3 separate regions of the Homo sapiens genome follow, and regions 1 and 3 are each linked to region 2. Evidence: fine-mapped expression QTL. A gene starts in region 2. Each other region holds a variant in brackets. All regions are shown on one strand. Distances are between the middles of the regions. Region 1 holds the start of TRP-CGG1-2 (tRNA-Pro (anticodon CGG) 1-2). Region 2 holds the start of IL32 (interleukin 32). Region 3 overlaps ZSCAN10 (zinc finger and SCAN domain containing 10).

Region 1 (10,507 bases), 110 kb before region 2:
GTAGAGATGGGGTCCCTCTTGGTTGCCCAGCCTGGTCTTGAACTCCTGGGCTCAAGTAATCCTCCCTTCTCAGACTACCCAAGTTCTGGGATTATAGGAATGTGCCGTCAAGCCTGATTCAGGCATGCTTTTCACATAAGGCGTAAGAGATCTCAGGTTCTAGTCCTGAATAAGCCCAAAGTTTTTTCCTTCTAAAATCACTAACATTCTAGGTTAGGGGCTTGGTCCCTTCCGTTCCTGTGGTCCTGAGGAGCAACTGTGGGGAGTAAAGGTGGGGAAGCCAGTGCCCTCCAGTTTCCCTGCAGGGCTTGCAAGGGATTGGGGATCGAGTCCTGGAGACTCTATAGGTAAAGAGGAAAAATCTTGGAGGACAGCGAGAGTCGGTGTGAAGGATCAAGAATTGCCGGTTGTAGGCCCGGCACGGTGGTTCACACCTGTAATCCCAACACTTCAGGAGACGGAGGTGGGCGAATCACTTGAGGTCAGGAGTTTGTTATATACAAAGTTTCGGTGCCGCAAAAGAAATAGCCCGAAAATATAAAATTTTGTTTTTAATTCTCAGCAAGGCAAGGTACTTCTATAGAAGGGTGCGCCCTTACAGATGGAGCAATGGTGAGAGCACACTTGGACAAGGGAGGGGAAGGGGTTCTTATCCCTTTCGCACGTGGCCCCTGCTGCTGTGTCATTCCCCTATTGGCTAGGGTTAGACCGCACAGGCTAAACTAATTGCCATTGGATAATTTAAAGAGAGTGACGGAGCGAATGGTTTGGCGGGAAAAATGGTTATTACAGAGCAGGTAATCGAAAGAGTCAGGGTGGAGTAGGTAATTGAAAAAGGTTGCTTTATGAGGAAGTTAAGTTTAAAAGTAGAAGGTAAAGAATTGAACATACTGACATATTGAATCTTTGAAAAGAAATTTGGAACTCATATCTAACAAGTTGGAGACCAGCCTGGCCAACATGGTGAAACCTCGTCTCTACTAAAAATACAAAAAGTAGCTCGGTGTGATGGCACGTGCCTGTTCCCAGCTACACGGGAGGCTGAGGCAGGAGAATCGCTTAACCCTGGGAGGCAGAGGCTGCAGTGAGCCGAGATCGCGCCACTGCACTCCAGCTTGGGCAACAGAGTGAGACTCCATTTAAAAAAAAAAAAAAGTGTACAATTTGGTAAGTTTTGGCAGTCCGTCACTCTCTGCTTTCTGTCACTGTATTATTTTGCATTTTCTAGAGTTTTACACACATGGGATCATCATTATATAACATTATTTTTTATGACATTATCCTCCATTTTGGATTTATGATAATTTCATTTAATCTATGCCCTATTTTGGGGCAAGTAGATTGTTTCCATTTGTTTTTTGTTGTGTTTTGTTTTGTTTTTTGAGACGGAGTCTCGCTCTGTTGCCCAGGCTGCTGTGCAGTGGCGCGCGATCTCGGCTCACTGCAACCTTCACCTTCCGGGTTCAAGCGATTTTTCTGCCTCAGCCTCTCCAGTAGCTGGGACTACAGGCGCGCACCATCACGCCCAGCTGATTTTTGTGGTTTTGGTACAGACGAAGTTTTACCATGCCAGGCTGGTCTCGAACTCCCGACCTCGTGATCCACCCACCTTGACTTCCCAAAGTACTGGGATTACAGGCGTGAGCCACCGCGCCCAGCCTGTTTCCTGGTTTTTAAGTATAATCTCAGAATAAATATTTTTTGATGCAAAATATCTATGTAAATCTATTACTACTTTTCTAGGACACGAGCCCTCAGTCAGGCTGGTGGGAATATAAAATAATCCAGCCACTGTGAATAATAGCCTCAAAATGTTAAACACAGAACTACCAAATGACCCCAAAATTCCATTCCTAAGTGGAATTCCACTCCTATGCTCAAGGAAATTTAAGACATATGTTCATACTAAACCATGTACACAATGTTCACTTTAATGAGCTGAGTTGTGACTGTCCACCATCCATATGTTGAAGTTCTAACTCTCAGTCCCTCAGAATGTGGCTGTATTTGGAGACTGGGTATTTAAAGAGGTAATTAAGACAAAATGAGGTTATTAGGATGGGCCTTAATCCAATATGACTGGAGTCCTTACAAGAAGAGGAAATTCAGGGCAGGCGCGGTGGCTCACGTCTTTAATCCCAGCACTTTGGGAGGCTGAGTCAGGTAGATCACCTGAGGTCAGGAGTAGTGAAACCCCACTCCAGGATGGTTTCCTGGGATGAGCAGGCATCTGCTTTCACCAAATCTTGCATCGCCAGGGGCAGATGGCTGAGAGAAGAAAATTGACCCAGTTGGAACAGAAACTCACAATGCTATCCTTGCGGGTGAGGCTCGCAGTAAAAAGGAATCGCCCAACGTGGGGCTCGAACCCACGACCCTGAGATTAAGAGTCTCATGCTCTACCGACTGAGCTAGCCGGGCGACACGCCAACGTTACCTTAGTGGATTTCTAGATTACAGCAGAGTCCAGGACCAGGAGTCTTCAGTGTCGGGACTACACTGTAGAACACAGTTGCTCCGCAGTAAGCGTTGCCCTCAGGCCTGCCCCAAAGGCGAGGCGCAGCAGGAGGCCCCCGAGGTAGCTGGATCTGGGTCTTTCTCTGCGTCAGAGGCCCACCCGCGGACGCCCCACAGGCCGGCACCTCCTGAGTGTCAGGGTGACTGGCCCTGGCACCCGCCCCGACTCAGGGCTGTGGAAGCGGGTCTGACCCGTGGATTCCTCGTTCACACGAAATACCTTTGCTGAGCCCCGACTTCGAGCCCAGCCAGATCCCATGGAGGCAGCAGACCCTGGGCATCCAGCCCCGTTGGAGGGTGTGGCACAGAGCCGCAGCTGCCAAACTGGAGCAAGAAATTGTTGTGACTCCTGCCCAAAGGATGGGGGTGGGGGTGGGGAAGAGGGAGGGACTGCAGGAACTGCGAGGCACCCCGGAAAGAAAACCGTGTCCCCACCAGGGGGAGGTGGGCTGGGGTGGGCTGGGTTGCAGGGGGCCGGGAGAAGGTGGGAGGCGGCCGGCAGTGACGGCGGGAAGCAGACAGGAAACCTCCGTGACCCAGCGGCCTCCTGCGCTGGGTTCCTTGCCTCGCGTCCCACCTGGGCAGGTGACGGTTTCCCGTTCCTTTCTAGGACCCTTAGCCTTTGCCGCTGCTGTTCGGCTGAAGAAGAATTCCCTAGCCAGGTTCGGTGGCTCACGCCTGTGATCCCAGTACTTTGGAAGGCCGAGGGGGTAGGATCGCTTGAGCCCAGGGGTTGGGGACCAGCCTGGGCAATATAGCGAGACACCCGTCTCTACAAAAAATAAAAATTTAAACATTAGACGGGCGTGGTGGCGCGCGCCTGGAGTCCCAGTTACTCGGGAAGCTGAGGCTGCAGTGAGCTATGATTGCACCATCGCACTCCAGCTTCGGCAACAGGGCAAGACCCTGTCTCAGAAAAAATAAAAATTAAAAAAAAAAAAAAGAATCCCCCCCTGAGCCCTCAGCACTTGCATCTCCCCAGGTTCGAGTCTCCTCCTTGGCAGGGCTGTGCGGGCGGCGGCTTCAGGCGCTCCGTGGACTCTGTTTTTCCTGGCTCTTCTGTTCTCACTCCACGCTGAGGTCCTATTTCTTCCAGGACCCCAGAGTTCAGCCAGGAGGGGGCGCCCCTCAAACCCTACGTCCAAGGTTTAAGGGAGATGCCTGAGAGGGCTCAAGTCACATGCCTGAGAGTAAGGGGTGGGGGGAGTGGAGTCTCATCTCGACCCACCTAGCTAGCCAGACTGGGGCAGGCTGTTATGCTGCCGTGGTGGTCGGGCCTTGCCGCCCGGAGGAAGGCTATCCGGACAGGAAACGAGCAGTTTAAAAAAGAAAAGAAAAAGTGGGAGGGGCTGAGGGCAGCTCTAACCTCAGCAGGTTTTTCCAGCAGCGAGAGGGGAGTGTGTATGGGGTGACCCCTCACGTTCAGCCCCAGCACTGGGGCTTCGACCTGGGCTTTCCGTTTTTTTACTTCTTCTTGGGCTGGTGAATCACCATACCAAACACCTGGAGGATTTGCTGTATCAGCTAGGCTCTGGAAAGAAGAAACAAAACCATTAGAAGAGATACTTGAGACGGATGACGCTTATGTGTACACGTGCATGGATGTGTTGCTATTTTTACTAGATTTATTTAAATGAATTGGCACATGTGATCGGGCAAGTCTGAAATGTATAGGCTGGGCAGCCAAGAGTTAATGTGGAAGTCTTCAAGCACTGTTCTACATGCTTTACCAAAACATGAAGAAATTTTAATACTCGAATTAATCTTTTAATTGCCATTATCCTCACATTACAGATGTGTAAGCTGGGGCCTTTGAGAGCCTCAATTTTGTGGGTCCATGTTTGTGGGGTGCAGATGAGGGATGGGGAGCCTGGTCCTGTCATCTTTCCCTCTACCCCTAAAAGAACTGTCCGAGGCCGGGAGCAGCGGCTCATACGTGTAATCCCAGCACTTTGGGAGGCCGAGGCTGGCGGATCACCTGAGGTCAGAAGTTCGAGACCAGCCTGGCCAACATGGTGAAACCCTGTCTCTACTAAAAATACAAAAAATTAGCCGGGAGTGCTGTTGAGTCCCTGTAGTCCCAGCTACTCGGGAGCCTGAGGCACGTGAATCACTTGAACCCGGGAGGCAGAGGTTTCAGTGAGCCAAGATCACACCATTGCACTCCAGCCTGGGTGACAGGGACTCTGTCTCAAATAATAATAATAATAATAAAATAGCTGGGCGCGGTGGCTCACGCCTGTAATCCCAGCACTTTGGGAGGCCGAGGTGGGCAGATCACGAGGTCAGAAGTTTGAGACCAGCCTGGTCAATGTGGTGAAACCCTGTCTCTGCTAAAAGTACAAAACATTAGCCAGGTGTGGTGGCGGGCGCCTGTAATCCCGGCTACTCAGGAGGCTGAGGCAGGAGAATCACTTGAACCCAGGAGGCGGAGGTTACAGTGAGCCAACCAAGATCGCACTGCTGCACTCCAGCCTGGGAGACACAGTGAGAGTCCGTCTCAAAAAAAAAAAATTTAGCCAGGCGTGGTGGCACCCACCTATACTCCCAGCTACTCAGAAGCTGAGGAA[A/G]GAGAATCTCTTGAACCCTGGAGGCACAGGTTGCAGTGAGCCGAGATGGTGCCAATGCACTCCAGCCTGGCAACAGAGCGACACCTTCTCAAAGAAAAGTATAATTATATAATACAATTATATTATTATGATATAATCATATTATTAATATAATTATATGATACATATATACTACATATAATATATAAACACATATAAAATATATATGTTTAGATATAAAACATATGTTTTTCATATGTGTGTATATTATTCAATACTGTAGACACGAAATCTAATTTCCATGTGTAATGAGAGAATGAGATATCTTATTTTTTTGGTACGAAGTCTTCAAAATCCCGATGTGTATTTTGTACTCACAGCAGCACATCTCAAGGGGACCAGCCATATTTCAAGTGTTTAAGAGCCATATGTGGCTCCTGGGCACCTTCCTGGCTAGCGCAGCAGGGGGCCATCGGGTCAGGCAGCTTTGACCTGCTCTCAACGAGCTTCATCTGTGACTCCGCCTTGGCCTGCAGAGATGTGGGTTTCTAGGGCGGGGAGGGGAGGTCGAGGAACGAGTAGCTCTCCAGGGCCCGCCCAGACCGTGCACACTACTCGATCACTCAGAACCCAACCACCGGCCTCCACCATACCCGGAGCCCATGTGGAGCTGAGCGACCCGGGCTGCAGAGGGTACAGCTTCTCTGGTCTGGGGTTGGGAAGGAGAAGGGCGCGGGACTCCCTCGAGGCTGAGGCAAGTGCCGACCAGGCCAGCCTCAGGAGCATCCTTGTCCCTTGTAGCTGAGGCACAGACCTGGACCGACCTGAAGCGGAGCAACGCGACTGGTAGTTGAGGCTTCAGGCTCGGTCCCCGATTTTCTAGCTCTATATTCTCTAAAATGACAAGGGAAAAGTAACCACTTCTAGGGCTCGTCCGGGATTTGAACCCGGGACCTCTCGCACCCGAAGCGAGAATCATACCCCTAGACCAACGAGCCTCCCGTGCGTGTATTTCCGCTGACATTTCAGACACCTGCCACCAATCCGGCACAAATCGGCTGATTCCGAAGTGGATAGAGCTCATCGCCGTCCCCAAGTGATTGGCAGAATTCTGGGGTCGCTGCGGGGAGACCCTGGTGAACCAGCCCCTTGGAGACAGAGCCCATCCACACTGGGCTTGGTAGGGGATGCTCAGGGTCAGGCCTGCAGCCTGGGGCTCCCCGCTGTATTTTCCCCTGCGCCGGGGTTACCGGGTCTGCGCTCACACCTGGGGCTGCTGACTCATACCCAAGGCCTTGCCCTAGGAGGATGGCTGAGCGGCCAGCCCACCTTTCATCCGACTGCGCCGGTGGTTGGCTCCATCCCAGAGGCGCCCCCATAGCCTCCCTCGGATGGAGCCCAGCGCCTCTGCCCTGACTCAGACGTTAGCTCTGCCCCCGTGTCTTCCTCTGTCAGCAAGAGCTGAAAAAGTTCCAGGAGGTCACTGGGGATGAGCAGCGACGGCAAAGGGCATCACAGCGACACACACTCGCTCCGTTTCTGTTTCTCTCTCACTCTCTCTCCAGGCGCTGTGGTTTTGCGGTTATGATTAGGGTGAGAGTGGGCCTCAGGGTCAAATCCTGTTGGGCCAATACCGCAACACCTTTTGAATCCTTCTTTAAGGACCTGAGCAGGTTGGAAAGCCAGTGGACGCGGCCTGGATGTGGAGAGGATCCAGCGAGTTCCGCGTGTGGTGGGCGAGAGGGTCCTGCCCATCGCCACAGGCCGCCCGCCCTATTTTGCCCTAGATCAACCCCACCCCAGACCTGAGCGCTGTCCCACTCCGGGGACTCCCTCCTCCCCTCTGGTTGGGCTTCTCGCTGCCGCGATCGTGGGCTCCCGGCCACGCTCCTAGAGCTGGCATCGACGTTTATGGAGAGCGGAGAATACGAAGTCTTGGGTTCCAGAAAGATAAGGCGCGGGGCGGGAGGGGGGTGAGGGAGTGGAGGAGCAAAGATGGTGCTTCCCGCCACCGAGGCCTGTTGGTCTAGAGGTATGATTCTCGCTTTGGGTGCGAGAGGCCCCGGTGCGAGTCCCAGAGGAGCCCAGCCTGCCGTGATCAGCTGTTGTTTGTTAGCCTGGTAAATCCAGCGCGCAAGAACAAGAATGGAGCGAATGAAAGAATCTTTCACAGGCAAAGCCGGCGCTTCCTCCCTCTCCTACCTTCTTCGGTTTCTCAAACTGCAGGATGAGACCCCACCAGGCGGGGCCTTGGGCCCCGGGCCCGGGTTTAAGAACCCGGAAATCAGCTCACCGCCAGCCACCTCCTGGATCCAGGACTGAGTACTCTGGACAGCGCGCGACCGGCCGTTTTTCTTCTTTTAGGAAAGGACTGCGGGTACAGGTGCTTGACTGAGGGTGGGAGTGAATGAAGACGGTGTCCGGGGACCCGGTGGCCGCAGCCAACTCAGTCTCCGCGTCCCTCGCTTGTTGGTCTAGAGAAGTAAGCGAACGCGATGGACGCCTCCCCCGGCAGGAGCCTCTGTACTGGGCGGGGGCAGGGGGGCTGCCCAGCCCCAGCGGATGGAACCCGGGCACCTGGTCACGCCGCCTCCCAGATTCCGGGGCGCAATGGGCTCAGAGGCTCAACTTCCTTCTCTCTTTAATCCCCTTCCCTCGCGGGGATCTGAACTGAACCTAGGACAGTTCTGAAGTTAACACCCCTCTTCCAAAGTAAAAGACCCAGACCATATTTTAATTCTTTAAAAAAGAACAAGTCGGCCGGGCGCGGTAGCTCACGCCTGTAATCCCAGCACTTTGGGAGGCCGAGGCGGGCGGATCACGAGGTCAGGAGTTCAAGACCAGCCTGCCCAACATGGTGAAACCCCCATCTCTACTAAAAATACAAAAAATTAGCCAGGCATGGTGGTGCATGCCTGTAGTCTCAGCTACTCGGGAGGCTGAAGCAGGGGAATCGCTTGAATCCGGAGGTGGTGGTTGCAGTGAGCTGAGATGGGGCCACTGCACTCCAGCCTGGTGACAGAGCAAGACTTCGTCTCAAAAACAAACAAACAAACAAAAAAGAACAAGTCAAGCTGGGCAGGGTGGCTCATGCCTGTAATCCCAGCACTTTGGGAGGCCTAGGCGGGCAGATCATTTGAGGTCGGGAATGAGACCAACCTAGCCAACATGGTAAAACTCCGTCTCCACTAAAAATACGAAAATTAGCTGGGCTTGGCTGCATGCACCTGCAATCCCAGATATTTGGTAAGCTGAGGCAGGAGAATCATTTGAACCCGGGAGGCGGAGGTTGCAGTGAGCCGAGATCACGTCACTGCACTCCAAGCTGGGCGACAAGAGCAAGACTCCGTCTCAAATAAACTAAAATAAAATAAAATAAAATGAAAAAGAACAAGTCAGGTCTAGATTTATCTACATGGAGTCAAATTTTTTATTCTCAAAGATCACAGGCGTCGTGTGTTAAAGCATGCATCTAATTTTTTGGTGGGCACAATAGTAGGCACAAAATAAAGAGCACACAGTTCAAAGTGAAGATTGACAATAACCAAGAAAAATACCTTTGAAAAACAGCCAGTGTTCATTTTCTGGCATTGATGCTGAGCCACAGTTATGGAAGTCTTAGGGGATACTGGGTGAATGCTACACAAGAGTTTTCTGTACTTTTTTTTTTCTTTTTGACCACTTACTGTGAATCTATAATTGTTTTAAAATAAAAAGTAAATAGGCTGGCCCAATGATGCACATCTGTAATTCCAGCATTTTGGGAGGCCGAGGAGGGAGGATCACTTGATCCCAGGAGCTCAAGACCATCCTGGGCAACATAGAAAGACCCGGTAGCTAAATTTAAATAAATCAATCAGGCCGGCTACGGTGGCTCATGCGTGTAACCCCAGGACTTTGGGAGGCTGAGGCGGGTGGATCACTAGAGGTCAGGACTTAAAGACCAGCCTGGCCAGCATGGTGAAACCCTGTCTCTACTAAAAATACAAAAAATAGTCTGGCGTGGTGGCACACGCCTGTAATCCCAGCTACTCGGCAGGCTGAGGCAAGAGAATCGCTTGAATCCGGGAGGTGGAGGTTGCAATGAGTTGAGTTCACGTCACTGCATTCCAGCCTAGGTGACAGAATAAGACTTCATCTAAATAAATAAATAAAATTAGCTGGGTGTGGTGGCACAAGTCTGTTGTTTCAGCTACTTGGAAATCTGAGGTAGGAGAATTCCTGAGTCCAGGAGGCTGAGACTGCAGTTAGCTACGATCACACCACTGCACTCCAGCCTGGGCAACAAAGCAAGACCCTGTCTTGGAAAAATAAAATAAAATGAATAGACTTTCAAAAATTACAGGCTGTCATAAGGGTGTTGTCATATATAGATGAGTTCCTGACATGGGAACAATGAGTCTAGGAGTGACATTTAAGCTGAGACAGGAGAGAAAATACGGGGCCAGTCAAGAAAGAGGAGGAAGAACAGCATTCCAGTCCAGGAACTGGTAACTGATGGGAGTTGAAGCAAAGAAGGAAAATAATTGGCTGGACGCAATGTCTCACAAGACGATCCCTTGAGCTCAGGAGTTTGAGACCAGCCTAAGCAACATAGTGAGGCCCCATCTCTACAGAAAACACACAAAAAAATTAGCTGGTGCATGAGGTGGGAGTATTGCTTGAGCTGAGAAGGTTGAGGCTGCAGTGAGCTGTGTTCTCACCACCATGCTGCAGCCTGGGTAACAAAGTAAGATTCTGGCTGGTCACGGTGGCCCATGCCTGTAATCCCAGCATTTTGGGAGGCCGAGGCTCACCTGAGGTCAGGAGTTCGAGAGAAGCCTGGCCAACATAGTGAAACCCCAACTCCACTAAAAATACAAAAATTAGCCTGGTGTGGTGGGCACCTGTAATCCTAGCTACTCCAGCTACTCGAGAGGCTGAGGCAGAGAGAATTGCTTGAACCCGGCAGGTGGAGGTTGCAGTGAGTGGAGATTGCACCACTGCACTCCAGCCTGGGTGACAGAGCAAGATTCTGCCTCTAAAACAAACAAACGATTAATGCAGGTGTGAATTGCATCAAGCGCCCTTCCAAACATTAAGATCACCACATAGCTTCTTTTTTATTCTGTTAATATGATGAATTATTTTGATAATTTTCTTGAATTTAGGCCAACCTTGTACTCTTGGAATATACCTAGTTCAGCCTTTATTTGATAGCTCCAGTCTTTCTTTTTTTTTTTTATTTCTATTTATTTTTATTTTTTTGAGACGGAGTCTTGCTCTGTCACCCAGGCTGGAGTGCAGTGGTGTGATCTCAGCTCACTGCAAGCTCCGCCTCCTGGGTTCACGCCATTCTCCTGCCTCAGCCTCCCCAGCAGCTGGGACTACAGGCGCACGCCGCCACGCCCGGCTAATTTTTTGTATTTTTAGTAGAGACGGGGTTTCCCCGTGTTAGCCAG
Region 2 (6,665 bases):
GAAAGAAAGAAAGAAAAGACAGGGCAGAGGTGAAGGAAGGCAAGGTGCCCAGATGGGTGTGTCATACTCACTGGGTGCTGCTCCTCATAATAAGCCGCCACTGTCTCCAGGTAGCCCTCTTTGAAGTCGTCCTGGGGAGAGGAGGGCACAGGGGGTTCATGCTGCTCCTGCCTGCCCCCTTCCCACTGTGGCCCCCACTGGTCCAGGTGATTCCCAAGGGGACCCGGGGCCCAGACCCAGTGTCCTGTGGAGCCTAAGACCCAGGGACTAAGCTTGGTGGAGGGGGAGGCCACGGCTCACCTCCAGCTCTGCCAGGCTCGACATCACCTGTTAGGAACAAAGCACTCGGTTCCAGGCCCAAGCCTCCTCTGCACCCCACATCAGTCAGTCCTCAAGCCCAGTGAGTCCTCAGCTCCCACACACCCCGAACTGGGCCCAGCCAGGGGCCCGGGCCACGTCTGGCACCCCTGTTGTTTCCTCAAGGAGCCCTGGGGCTTGGATGCCTCCCTCAGTCTCCCCGGGCGTCCAGATCCCCCACCCGCCCACTCACTGCCACCCAGGTGCAAGCATTTGCCCACGGTAAGGGGTGAGGGAGCCTGTGGGTCCCTCTTCATCCTTCTCACCCTGAGCCCCACACAGGGTGGAGTGCCTGGGGGCGGGGACATGTGACCTGGTGCCTGAGGGGAAATCCACCCACCTGTCCACGTCCTGATTCTGCATTTTGCATTTTATCATAAAATCTTTCTATGGCCTGGTGCTGTGAAGAGAGGCAGAGTTGGCACCAAAGGGCCGGATCCTTGTCCCTCCAGGGTCCCAGGTGTCCCACAGTGTCCTCAGTGTCACACGCTGAGACCCAGGCCCCCAACCCCTGAGCAGAAGTAGGGAGGAGCATTACCATTCGGGCCTTCAGCTTCTTCATGTCATCAGAGAGGACCTGCGGAAATAACGGTGACACTCAGTCTCCATGTGTCACCTTAACCTTTCCTCCAGGATAATTTATACACACACACACACACACACACACACACACACACACACAGAGACACATGGCAGAGGTACAGGATAAGAGGAGACAGCAGTCCCAGGAGCCCCTCACAGCCTGGAAAGACCGGCCAGGGCTGTCCTCGAAACGACTCAGAAAGCGCTTCTCTCAGGAGCCGGCTCAGCTGGGCAGGCCCAAGAGCAGGGCCAGCATGGGCCTAGGTGACCCCTCCTCACAAGAGCAGGGCCTGCGTGGGCCTAGGTGACCCCTCCTCACAAGAGCAGGGCCTGCGTGGGCCTAGGTGACCCCTCCTCACAAGAGCAGGGCCTGCGTGGGCCTAGGTGACCCCTCCTCACAAGAGCAGGGCCTGCGTGGGCCTAGGTGACCCCTCCTCACAAGAGCAGGGCCTGCGTGGGCCGGGGTGTCCTCCCTGCACACACACACCCCCCCATGTACACACACGGGAGGATGGACACTGTCCTGGAGCAGGCTGGCTCAGCTGGGTTTCCCACAACCACTATGGTCCCAGGTGAGAGTTGGCCAAGGAAAAAATGTTTAGGGACATGACAATTGAGAAGGTAACAGCAGCCATTCCTCTCTGATGAGCTGATTAATATTTGGGGTGCCAGGTAGGTCCACCCTACAACCTGCCACTCTTCCCGACTGCCAACATGCAGACCCACAGGTCCCGGGCCATTCCTGCCTGCAGACACGTGGCTGCATCCACAGAGGCCAGAGGCACCCCACAGAATCCCCGCTGAGCCCCCACGTCAAGGGCCTAGTCTCGGGGGTGACATGCCTGGTTTCCCCCACTATAGAGTGGTGACAGTCACCCACAGAGTGCGCAGGGCCTGGGGACATATTCTGGGCAGGGCAGCTGTCTGCACACTTTCAGGCAGCGATGGTCCCATCCCGCTAGCCTGATTTCCCAGGAACCAGGGTGAAAGCAGCACCGTGCCGACATGCGGGAGCCATGTGTCCTCCGGGTCACTGTCCTGAACCTGAGCCAGGCCACATCATGGAAACCCCTATTGTCACAGGCCGAAGAGCTCCCTGGAGGGTGTGGTGGGCCTAGCATTTGCGGTGGGGCAGTGGTAGAGGATGGGAGGTCGGAGGGAACCCAGGAAAGGAGGAAGAGACACCAGGACCCACACAGGCCTTGCTCTTGGGCCCACCCAGCTGAGCCGGCCTCTGAGAGAAGCATTCTCCGAGTCGTTTCCAGCAGAGCCCTGCCCCACCCCTGCCCCGGGCTTTCCGGGCTGTGAAGGGCTCCTGGGACAGGTGCTCCCTCTCATCCACACCCCTGCCGTTCTCCAGCGCCCCCGACACATATGACCTCCAGCGCCTCCACTGACACTCTCACCCCATCACTATCCTCCTGCCGCTGGGTGCCCCTGACTGAGCCCTGACACACAGGCACCTCGGGAAATACTGAGGGCACCCGCACCCTTACGGTCTGTTTTCAGACATGCCCACAAAAGCACACGCAGCCTCTCACTCACCTTCGGGAAGCACATGGCGGCCAAAAGTTCAAGGAGCCAAGGCCTGCTGGCGAGGAACAGGTGTGAGGAAAAGAAAGTGTCTCAGAGAAGCACCCTCCTCCCCAGAGGGTCCTCACCTTCGGGGACCCCAACTCCCCACCTGAGATGACCCAGCTCCACTGAGACAGTCACCTTCTGCACGCAGTCTTCCTGGCACAAATACTCAGCTGGTTTTATGGGGAAAGTGGGGGGTAGTGGGCGGAGCCTCTCTCAGGGCAGGAGGCCTTGCTGAGTGCGTGAAAAACAGACAGAGACAGAGACAGAGACAGAGACAGACAGAGATGGAGACTTACCCGAGAGAGACAGAGGTCTGGGGTCCCTGGGAGGAATGAGGGTCCGTCCCTGGCTGGGCCCCTGCTCCCTCTGAGCTGGGGTGGGAGTCTCTGAGCCCAGGAATGGGCTGCTTTCCCCACCCCACCAGCCTGAGAGTGGGGAGGGGCAGAGGGAAAGTCCAGACTCGGGACAGCTGGCTGGGGAAACTCCCTGAGTACAGGAAGGTGACGTCAGCCAAGTGGGATCCAAGGACAAAGGAATTTGGACCCTGTCCTTGCATGAGGTGTGCCCCGGCTCCAGAGGCCAGAGAAACTTCTGGATCAGAAGGAGGCAGGAACTGCCGGACCTAAGAGGGGCGCCGTGAGGGCAGGGGCCTGTGCACGTTGGAGGGGTGGCTAGTGGTGATGTAGATCTACCTGTGGGACAAGATAGGACCCTCTGCAGGGTGGAAGGCATCCTGCCGGCTGTCTGAGCTTGGCTGACCAGGTCCTTCTGACCCTTCTGGGCCAAGGCAAGGCCATCTGGGGCCGAAGGTCACTGGTCTCAGCAATCTTGGGGCTCCCCTACGGGCTCTTCTAGCTCCACGGGTTCTGACCCTCCAGCCTGGCTGGGCCTCCCACCTCCTCCTCACGGCCCCCAGCCCCCTTCCCCCAGCTGAGCACAACCACGCCCTTGCCTTTGGGATGGTTTCCTGGGGCCAAACTAAGGAAGTACCACGACAAGGGGCCCTAAGTCGAAGACGTCTCTTCCCTCACGATCTGCAGGCTGGAGGTCCAAGGTCAATGTGGGCAGCGTGGGGTCCTTCTGAGGGCCCGGAGCTGGGATTCTGTTCAGGTTTCTCCTGCCCTTGTAGATGGCCATCTTCATCTTCATCACGTTCTGCCTGGGTGTGACTGTCCCCCTTTCCCCTTTCCAAAGGACACCAGTCATATTGAAATAGGGTCCACCCTAGGCCGGGCGCAGTGGGTCACGCCTGTAATCCCAACACTTTGGGAGGCCGAGGCGGGCAGATCACCTAAGGTCAGGAGTTCTAGACCAGCCTGGCCAACATGGTGAAACCTTGTCTCTACTAAAAATACAAAAATTAGCCTTGCGTGGTGGCCGGCACCTGTATTCCCAGCTACTCGGGAGGCTGAGGCAGGAGAATCACTTGAACCCGGGAGGCGAATGTTGCAGTGAGCTGAGATGGTGCCACTGCACTCCAGTCTGGGGGACAACAATGAAAATTCCCCTCGGAAAAAAAAAAAAAAGAAGTAGGATCCACCCCAGTGACCTCATTGTACCTTAAGTACCTCCATAAAGACCCTGTTTCCAAATAAGGGCATATTCTGAGGTCCTGGGGCTTAGGAATTCAGCATGGATGCAATGTATCCCATTATATTCTCAAAGGGGACTCGGAGAGACAGAACCTATAAAACACGCTCCATGGAGAAATCTTCCCTTGGGTGAAGTAGACAACGGTTGTCACCTGCCTGCCACTTAGGAGTCCATTCCACTGTGCGCAACCGCCTTTCCACATACAGGATGTCCAGATCTTTCCCTGAGTATCCTCTGAATTGTAGTGGGAGACAGAAGGAAGCCACTCCTGCACCAGCTAAAAGTCATGCTTTAGGCTTCAGCTCCAACCCTAGCCCCTCATGACTCTCAAAGGCCACCATCTGAAGACATCTTGGGATCCACCCAGACTGTATGTACCCTGTTTTTATAGCTTTATGGTGATGCAATTTACAGGCAATGCAATTCACTCATTGAGCTGTACAATTCAAAGCACAGAACTGTGCAGCTATCACCACAACCCATTTTAGAACATTTTTATCACCTCTAAGAGAAATTCTGCCCTTCTGAGACATCACTGCCAGTCCTCATTTCCCTGGATAACCACTCATCTACTTTTTCTTTTTCTTTTTTTTTCTTAGAGTCTCGCTCTGTTGTCTAGGCTGAAGGGCAGTGGCACGATCTCGGCTCACTGCAACCTCTGCCTCCTGGGTTCAAGCAATTCTCCTGACTCAGCCTCCCGAGTAGCTGGGATTACAGGCACGTGCCACCACACCCAGCTAATTTTTGTATTTTTAGTAGAGACGGGGTTTCACCATGTTGATGAAGGAGTCTCGAACTCCTGACCTCAAGTGATCTGCCCGCCTTGGCCTCCCAAAGTGCTGGGATTACAGGCATGAGCCACTGTGTCTGGCCTCATCTACTTTCTCTCTCAATGGATGCCTCTCTCCCAGACATTTCCTATAAGTAGAATTATACACTAGGTGATCTTCTGTGTCTAGCTTCTTTCACTGAACATGCTATTCTTGAGGTTCATCCGTGTTGTAACACGCATTATTCCTTCATTCCTTTTTCTGGCTGAATAATATTCTACTGTGTGGATAGACCACATTTGGTTTCTCCATTCACCCCTCGAAGGACATTTGGGTTCTTTCCACTTTTTGGCTAATTCCGAATAATGCTGCTATGAACATTCACGTACAAGTTTCTGTGCAGACGTATGTTTTCACTTCATATGTATGAAGCAGAAGAATAGCTGGGTTACATGGTAAATGTGTTTTTATCCTTTTGAGGAACAGCCAGACTATTTTTCAAAATGTCTGTCATTTTACATTCCCAGCAGCAGTGTGCGAGGGTTCCCGTGTCTCTACAACCTCAGCAATACTTGTTATTCTCTGTGTCTTTTCAATTCCAGCCATCCCAATGGGCTGAAATGGTATCACGTGACAATTTTTTTTTTTTTTTTTTTTGAGGTGGAGTCTTGTTCTGCCACTCAGCCTGGCCTAATTTCTGTATTTTTAGGAGAGATGGGATTTCACCATGTTGGCCAAGGAGTCTCGAACTCCTGACCTCAAGTGATCTGCCCGCCTTGGCCTCCCAAAATGCTGAGATTACTGGCATGAGCCACTGCGTCTGGGCTTATCTACTTTCTCTCTCAATGGATGCATCTCTCCCAGAGATTTCTTATAAGTAGAATTATACACTACGTGATCTTCTGTGTCTAGCTTCTTTCACGGAACATGCTGTTCTTGAGGTTCATCTGTGTTGTAACACGGATCAGTCCTTCATTCCTTCTTCTGGCTGAATGATATTCTACTGTGTGGATAGACCACATTTGGTTTCTCCATTCACCCCTCAAAGGAAGTTGGGGTTCTTTCCCCTTTTTTGCTATTCTGAATAACGCTGCTGTGAACATTCACGCAAAAGTTTCTGTGCAGACTTATGTTTTCACTTCTCTTGGATACGTATGAAGGAGAAGAATAGCTGGGTTACATGGCAAATGTGTTTTTATCCTTCTGAGGAACAGCCAGACTATGTTTCAAATTGTCTGTCATTTTACATTCCCAGCAGCAGTGCCCGGGGGTTCCTGTTTCTCCACATCCCCAGATACATTTGTTATGCTCTGTGTCTTTTTAATTCTAGCCATCTTAGTGCGCTGAAATGGTACCATGTGACAATTTTTGTGTTTCTTTTTTTTTTTTATTTGATGCAATCTCGCTTGGTCTCCCAGGCTGGTGTGCAGAGGCACGATCTCGGCTCACTGCAACCTCCAACTTCTGGGTTCAAGCGATTTTCCTGCCTCAGCCTCTCAAGTAGCTGGGATTACAGGCATGCGCCACCACGCCTGGCTAATTTTTGTATTTTTAGTAGAGACAGGGTTTCACCATGTTGGCCAGTTGGTCTAAAACTCTCAAACTCAAGTGACATCTGCCTCTCAAACGTCTGCATCAGCCTCCCGAAATGCGGGATTACAGGCATAAGCAACCGTGCCCAGCCAATTTTATTTTTATTTTTATTTTTTTGAGACACACCTGTTGCCCAGGGTGGAGTGCAGTGGCGTGATCATGGCTCATTGTTGCCAAGACTTCCCGGCT
Region 3 (5,990 bases), 30 kb before region 2:
GCACTTGGCAAAGGGAGAAGTGATTGTTTCGTGCGTGGGCTGGACTGGGATGAAATGAGCTTAATCGCCAGACACTCAGTACCTGCCCGCTGCTCCTGCACGGCAATGGATGAGCAGTGATTAGTTTTCTTGTTATTTTGTGCATGCTACTAAAAACCAGTGAAACGTAATCCCATTTTCTTCCCCCTCCCCCACTCTTTTTTTTTCTTTTCTTTTCTTTTCTTTCTTTCTTTCTTTTTTTTTTTTTTTTTTTTGAGACAGGGTCTTCGCCTTTTATCCAGGCTGGTGTGCAGTGGCGCGAACATGGCTCACTGCAGCTTTGACCCCCCAGGTTCAAGCAATCCTTCTGCCTTGGCCACCCAAAATGCTGGGATTATAAGCATGAGCCACCGCATCCGGCCTCACAACACCATTTTTCTGATCATTTATCACAGACTTTTTCTGTCCTAGACGTTGTTACATGCTTTCCTTCGAGATGGCCAGAATCACTGCCATTCCCTAATTTCTGCTAACAGACACTGAAGCAACTTCAAGTGCTGGATGAACACTCATTGAACTAGACACAGCTCCTACTCCCAGGCCAGGCAGAGAAATACGCTCATCTGTGATTGAGGCACTCCATCGCCCTAGTGGGGAGAGATGGGGTGGGAGGATGGGGGCTGCCTGGAGTGGATGCCAGAGGGCAGGAAAGCGTAGTTCCGGCTCGGGGGTGGTTACACTCTCACACATGCAGGGGTTGAAATCTGGATTTCTCACTTTGTCTTCGCTTATCTGGCCCCACCCTGTCCCCATCCACCTCCCAAACTGGGAGCTTGAGGGTTAACGCTAGGAAGCCCCTCAACACCTGGATGGGATGGGACTGGGGCAGGGAACTTCCCGTTCCATTTTGTCAGAGTCCTTCCCCAGGTGGCTGAGGTTGGGAGATGCAGGGGAGCCGGGGTAGGGGTGAGGGGCTTGGAAGATACTGTGTGTTGCAGGGAGGTTGGGAGAGATGGGTCATGTTCTAGAATCACCTCCCCTCCTTCTCAGCGGCTAAGCTTAAAATCCCCCATTCTGTACCACAACACCACCCCACCTGAGGAGGTTCAGGGAACCCTCAGGCTCATATTAAGGGGGTACAGCAAACTGTCCAAGGCTCTCAACTAGGCCATCGTTACCAGGGAGAGGCTGCCCAAGGCTGAGTTACTTTTTTTTTTTTTTGAGACAGATTCTCATTCTGTTGCCCAAGCTGGAGTGTAGTGATGCAATCTCAGCTCACTGCAACCTCTGCCTCCTGGGTTCAAGAGATTCTCCTGCCTCAGTCTCCCGAACAGCTGGGACCACAGATGCATGCCACCATGCCCGGATAATTTTTTTTTTTTTTTTTTTGAGGCAGAGTCTAATTCTGTCGCCCAGGCTGGAGTGCAGTGGCACGATCTCGTCTCACTGCAACCTCCGCCTCCCAGGTTCAAGCAATTCTCCTCTCTCAGCCTCCTGAGTAGCTGGGACTACAGGCGCATGCCATCACGTCCGGCTAATTTTTGTAATTTTAGTAGAGACAAGGGTTTCACCATATTGATCAGGCTGGTCTCGAACTCCTGACCTCAGGTGATCCATCCACCTCGGCCACCCACACTGCTGGGATTACAGGCCTGAGCCACTGCACTCGGCCACTGGGTTACCTTTTTGCTGAGCCTTAGTGTCCTCGGCTGTAGAATGGGTCAGTGATGGGCCCAACAGAACTGTGAGTCACTGTTTGCTGCGGTGCTTGGTGTTGTAATCAGCAGCAATGAGAACAGTAATAGCTCGTGCTCATGGATGCCTACTGTGTGCCAGCCACTGCATGCTGGACAGTGCCCTGTGCCATTCAGGTGAGTGGAGTGGTGCTTCAGGCTTTCTTCACATCCCCCTACCTGGGGTGCCAACTGGGAGTGGAGGGTGGGAGGCTCTAGGAGAGGTTCACTTGTAGCCCTGAGGCTAGAGAACAGGAAGGGCAGAAAGCAGAGGGCAGGAGCCTGGATTTCCATGTCTATAAAATGACCCCTGCCTGAAATAAAATGTAAAAGAGACTCAAACAAAAATATGAGCCTGCTCTGCTCTGCTCAGAAAAGCTTAAATCATCCAGCCTCAATTAGTTGAGCAGGGCTGAACTGAGTCCCCTGTGGGTGGGGCCGAAATTTCGGAGGTTCCCCATGGGTAGTACTGGGCTACCAGACCAGGAAGGGGAAGCCCCACAGCCCTAGATTGGGAGGAGGTTGGGGGAGGATGTCAGTGCCTCCTGGTGGCTATA[G/A]ATGACTTATTTTATATTTTTTATTTTTTGAGACGGGCTGGCACTGTCGCCTAGGCTGGAGTGCAATGTTGCAGTCACAGCTCACTGCACTGCAGCCTCAACCTCCTGGGATCAAGCAATCTTCCCACCTCAGCCTCCCAGGTAGCTAGGACCACAGGTATACACAACCATGACTGGCTAAATTTTTTTTTTTTTTTTTTGAGATGGAGTCTGGCTCTGTCGCCCAGGCTGGAGTGCAGTGGCGCGATCTTGGCTCATTGCAAGCTCTACCTCCCTGTTTCACGCCATTCTCCTGCCTCAGCCTCCTGAGTAGCTGGGACCACAGGCACCCGCCACTGCGCCCGACTGATTTTTTTTATTTTTATTAGAGACGGGGTTTCACCGTGTTAACCAGGATGGTCTCGATCTCCTGACCTGGTGATCCACCCTCGGCCTCCCAAAGTGCTGGGATTACAGGCGTCAGCCACTCAGTGCCCCCAGCAACTGGCTAAATTTTTAATTTTTTTTTTTTTTGAGACGGAGTCTCGCTGTCGCCCAGGCTGGAGTGCAGTGGCATGATCTCGGCTCACTGCAAGCTCCGCCTCCGGGGTTCACGCCACTCTCCTGCCTCAGCCTCCCGAGTAGCTGGGACTACAGGTGCCCGCCACCACCCGTGGCTAATTTTTTGTATTTTTAGTAGAGACGGGGTTTCACCATGTTAGACAGGATGGTCTCGATCTCCTGACCTTGTGATCTGCCTGCGTCAGCCTCCCAAAGTGCTGGGATTACAGGTGTGAGCCACCACACCCTGCCCTACATTTTTAATTTTTTTAGAGACGGGGGTCGTGCCATGTTGCCCAGGGCTGGTCTTGAACTCCTGAGGCTCAAGTGATCCTCCTGCCTCAGCCTCCCAAAGTGCTGGGATAACAGGCGTGAGCCAGCCCCGCTAACCTTTCATTTTGAAAATTCGAAAACATCCAGAGAACTTGAAAGAGCAGTGAAATGAACATTCATATATGTATCTCATATATCAGGCCCCTTCTCCAAACTCTTCAGCGTCTTCTAAGAACTCAGCCATTTCCTATATATTACAAGACTAGACTTTCATCTCAGAAATGGGTAGTCATACTGTTATCATCTAGTATCCCCACCATACTCACCATTTTCCGACTGGCCCCAGGATGTCTTTTAAAGCCTTTAAGAAAAATGAATGAGGATCCAATCTAGGTTCACCCACTTAGTTGTGAGGACTCTTTGGGCTCCTGTCCACCAGCGCCTCCTACAGGCACTTACTTTTTATGACACTGAGTAACTCAGGCCAATTTCTTTGAGAGATGGTCTGACTTGTTCCATATTCCCTGCAAGGCCCTAAACATTGGAAGTTGGATCTAAAGGCCACCATTAGGTCGGGCGGGGTGGTTCATGCCTGTAATCCCAGTACTTTGGGAGACCGAAGCGGGCGGATCACCTGAGGTTAAGAGTTTGAGAGCAGCCTGGCCAACATGGTGAAACCCCATCTCTACTAAAAATACAAAATTAGCGGCATGCGGTGGCGCGTGCTTGTAATCCCAGCTACTCACGAAGCTGACGGACGAGAATCACCGGAACCCGCGAGGCGGAGGTTGCGGTGAGCCGAGATCTTGCCATTGCACTCCATCCTGGGCAACAAGAGTGAAACTCCATCTCAAATAAATAAATAAATAAAGGCTGGTTGGATTGAGATTAGGTATTTTTGGGCTAGGCACAGTGGCTCACGCCTGTAATTCCAGCACTTTGAGAGGCTGAGGCAGGTGGATCACTTGAGCCCAGGAGTTTGAGACCAGCCTGGGCAACATAATGAGAACTCGTGTCTACAAAAAATAAATAAAATTAACCCAGCATGGTGATATGCACCTGTAGTCCCAGCTACTCGGGAGGCTGACGCGGGAGGATCACTTGAGCCCAGCAGATCAAGGCTGCAGTGAGCCGTGATTGCGCCACTGCACTGCAGCCTGCGTGACAGAGTGAGACCCTGTCTCAAAAAAATAAATAAATTACTTAATTAAATTAAAAATTTAAAAAACAGGCTTGGTGCAGTGGTTCACGCCTTAATCTCAGCAATTTGGGAGACTGAGGTGGGCTGATCACTTGAGGTCAGGAGTTCAAGACCAGCCCAGCCAACATGGTGAAACTCTTGTGTCTACTAAAAATGCAAAAATTAGCTGGGCGTGCTGCCACAGGCCTGTAATCCCAGCTACTGTAAACCCAGGCTGAGGAATGAGAATCGCTTGAACCTGGGAGGTGGAGGCTGCAGAGAGCTGAGATCATGCCACTGCACTCCAGTCTGGGTGATATAGCAAGACTCCATCTCAAAAAAAAAAAGAAAAAAAAAAGCTTTAAAAAACAAACTTTTTTGGCCAGGATCCATCTTGATGGTGCCATGTGCTCCCAGTGGCTACATCAGGAAGAAGGGAAGGGCAGGGTGTTTCTCTTTCAGGGATGGTCACTTTAATCACTTGGGAAAAGTGATGCAAATTTCTTTTTTTTTTTTTTTTGATCTGAGTCTCGCTCTGTCACCCAGGCTGGAGTGCAGTGGCGCGATCTCGGCTCACTGTAAGCTCCGCCTCCCAGGTTCACACCATTCTCATGCCTCAGCCTCCCCAGCAGCTGGGACTAAATTAGCCTGGCTAATTGTTTTGTATTTTTAGTAGAGACGGGATTTCACCGCGTTAGCCAGGATGGTCTCGATATCCTGACCTCGTGATCCACCCGCCTCGGCCTCCCAAAGTGCTCGGATTACAGGTGTGAGCCACTGTGCCCGGCCAAGTGATGTAAATCTCTAAATGCTTTAAGGAGGGATGATAATACAGAACTGTCAGTTTTCTCTGGCCTTTGCTTTGTTGGTAACCCTGAGACCGGGGGCTGTCCTGCCCTCGTGAGCCATTACCCAGTGAGAAAAGCGATTCCTCTGGGTCTGCGTATTGGGTGTCTTTTAACATGGATGACCCAGGTATGGGGCCAGCTTCCTCGCAGCAGATCCTAACCCAGGGTGTTCACCTTCGCAGGTGTGGGAGGAGAGGAGAGAGACCCAAGAGCGGGGCTGGCGTTAGGGAGGCATCCCCGCAGTGAAGGATGCTTGGAGAATCAGTCCCAGCTGCCGTGGAGCAGGAGCAGCTGGGGGAAGTCAAGCTGGAGGAGGAGGAGGCTGTCAGCCCAGAGGACCCCAGGCGACCAGAGTCCAGGCTGAGGCCCGAGGTGGCTCACCAGCTGTTCAGATGCTTCCAGTATCAGGAGGACATGGGGCCACGGGCGTCCCTGAGCCGGCTCCGGGAGCTCTGCGGCCACTGGCTGCGGCCGGCTCTGCACACCAAGAAACAGATCCTGGAGCTGCTGGTGCTGGAGCAGTTCCTGAGTGTGCTGCCTCCGCACCTCCTGGGCCGCCTGCAGGGGCAGCCGCTCAGGGATGGGGAGGAGGTGGTGCTGCTGCTCGAGGGCATCCACCGGGAGCCCAGCCACGCGGGGCCGCTGGTGAGAGGGTGGGGCAGCGGGCTGAGCAGCATGCGGATGATGGGGACTTGATCCCCCCAGTGAGGAATCTCTGGAAACTTCACTTTCCCCCACCTGACCATTCCTTCTTCACCTCCTAACTCCTCCCCTGGCTGACTCTAACCTCGTTTCTGTCCCATGTCCCCTCGGAGTCAGGACACAGGTTGCCACCCCGGGAGTCACTTAACTTGAATGTGTTTTGAACAGGATTTTAGTT

Evidence for each region. PIP is the estimated chance that this variant, and not a neighbour inherited with it, causes the effect. A credible set is the group of variants that fine-mapping cannot tell apart.
Region 1: its variant is the best candidate, but not a certain one, in a credible set for the expression of IL32 in whole blood (TOPMed, PIP 0.80).
Region 3: its variant is the best candidate, but not a certain one, in a credible set for the expression of IL32 in whole blood (TOPMed, PIP 0.60).

What each region holds. Positions count from the first base shown.
Region 1 is chr16:3,167,605-3,178,111 of GRCh38, reverse strand. It overlaps TRP-CGG1-2 (tRNA-Pro (anticodon CGG) 1-2), which reads right to left and starts at 6,064; the gene lies at 5,993-6,064. It overlaps TRK-CTT2-5 (tRNA-Lys (anticodon CTT) 2-5), which reads right to left and starts at 2,421; the gene lies at 2,349-2,421. It also overlaps the pseudogene TRP-TGG4-1. RefSeq lists enhancers at 5,152-5,891, 6,079-6,128, 6,149-6,218, 5,892-6,632, 6,529-6,678 and 2 more and a silencer at 2,354-2,453. The variant A/G (reference allele first, on the strand shown) is at 5,088.
Region 2 is chr16:3,061,646-3,068,310 of GRCh38, reverse strand. It overlaps IL32 (interleukin 32), which reads right to left and starts at 2,671. Exons shown (of 7, transcript NM_001376923.1): 1 at 2,624-2,671; 2 at 2,485-2,527; 3 at 896-934; 4 at 698-757; 5 at 301-327; 6 at 72-131. The coding sequence starts at 2,499. RefSeq lists enhancers at 10-529, 2,868-3,177.
Region 3 is chr16:3,092,307-3,098,296 of GRCh38, reverse strand. It overlaps ZSCAN10 (zinc finger and SCAN domain containing 10), which reads left to right. Exons shown (of 6, transcript NM_032805.3): 2 at 5,293-5,755; 3 at 5,981-5,990. The coding sequence starts at 5,360. Among named protein-coding and RNA genes, the nearest start is that of ZSCAN10, 4.0 kb to the left of the region's middle. RefSeq lists silencers at 3,556-3,625, 5,117-5,310 and an enhancer at 4,996-5,583. The variant G/A (reference allele first, on the strand shown) is at 2,270.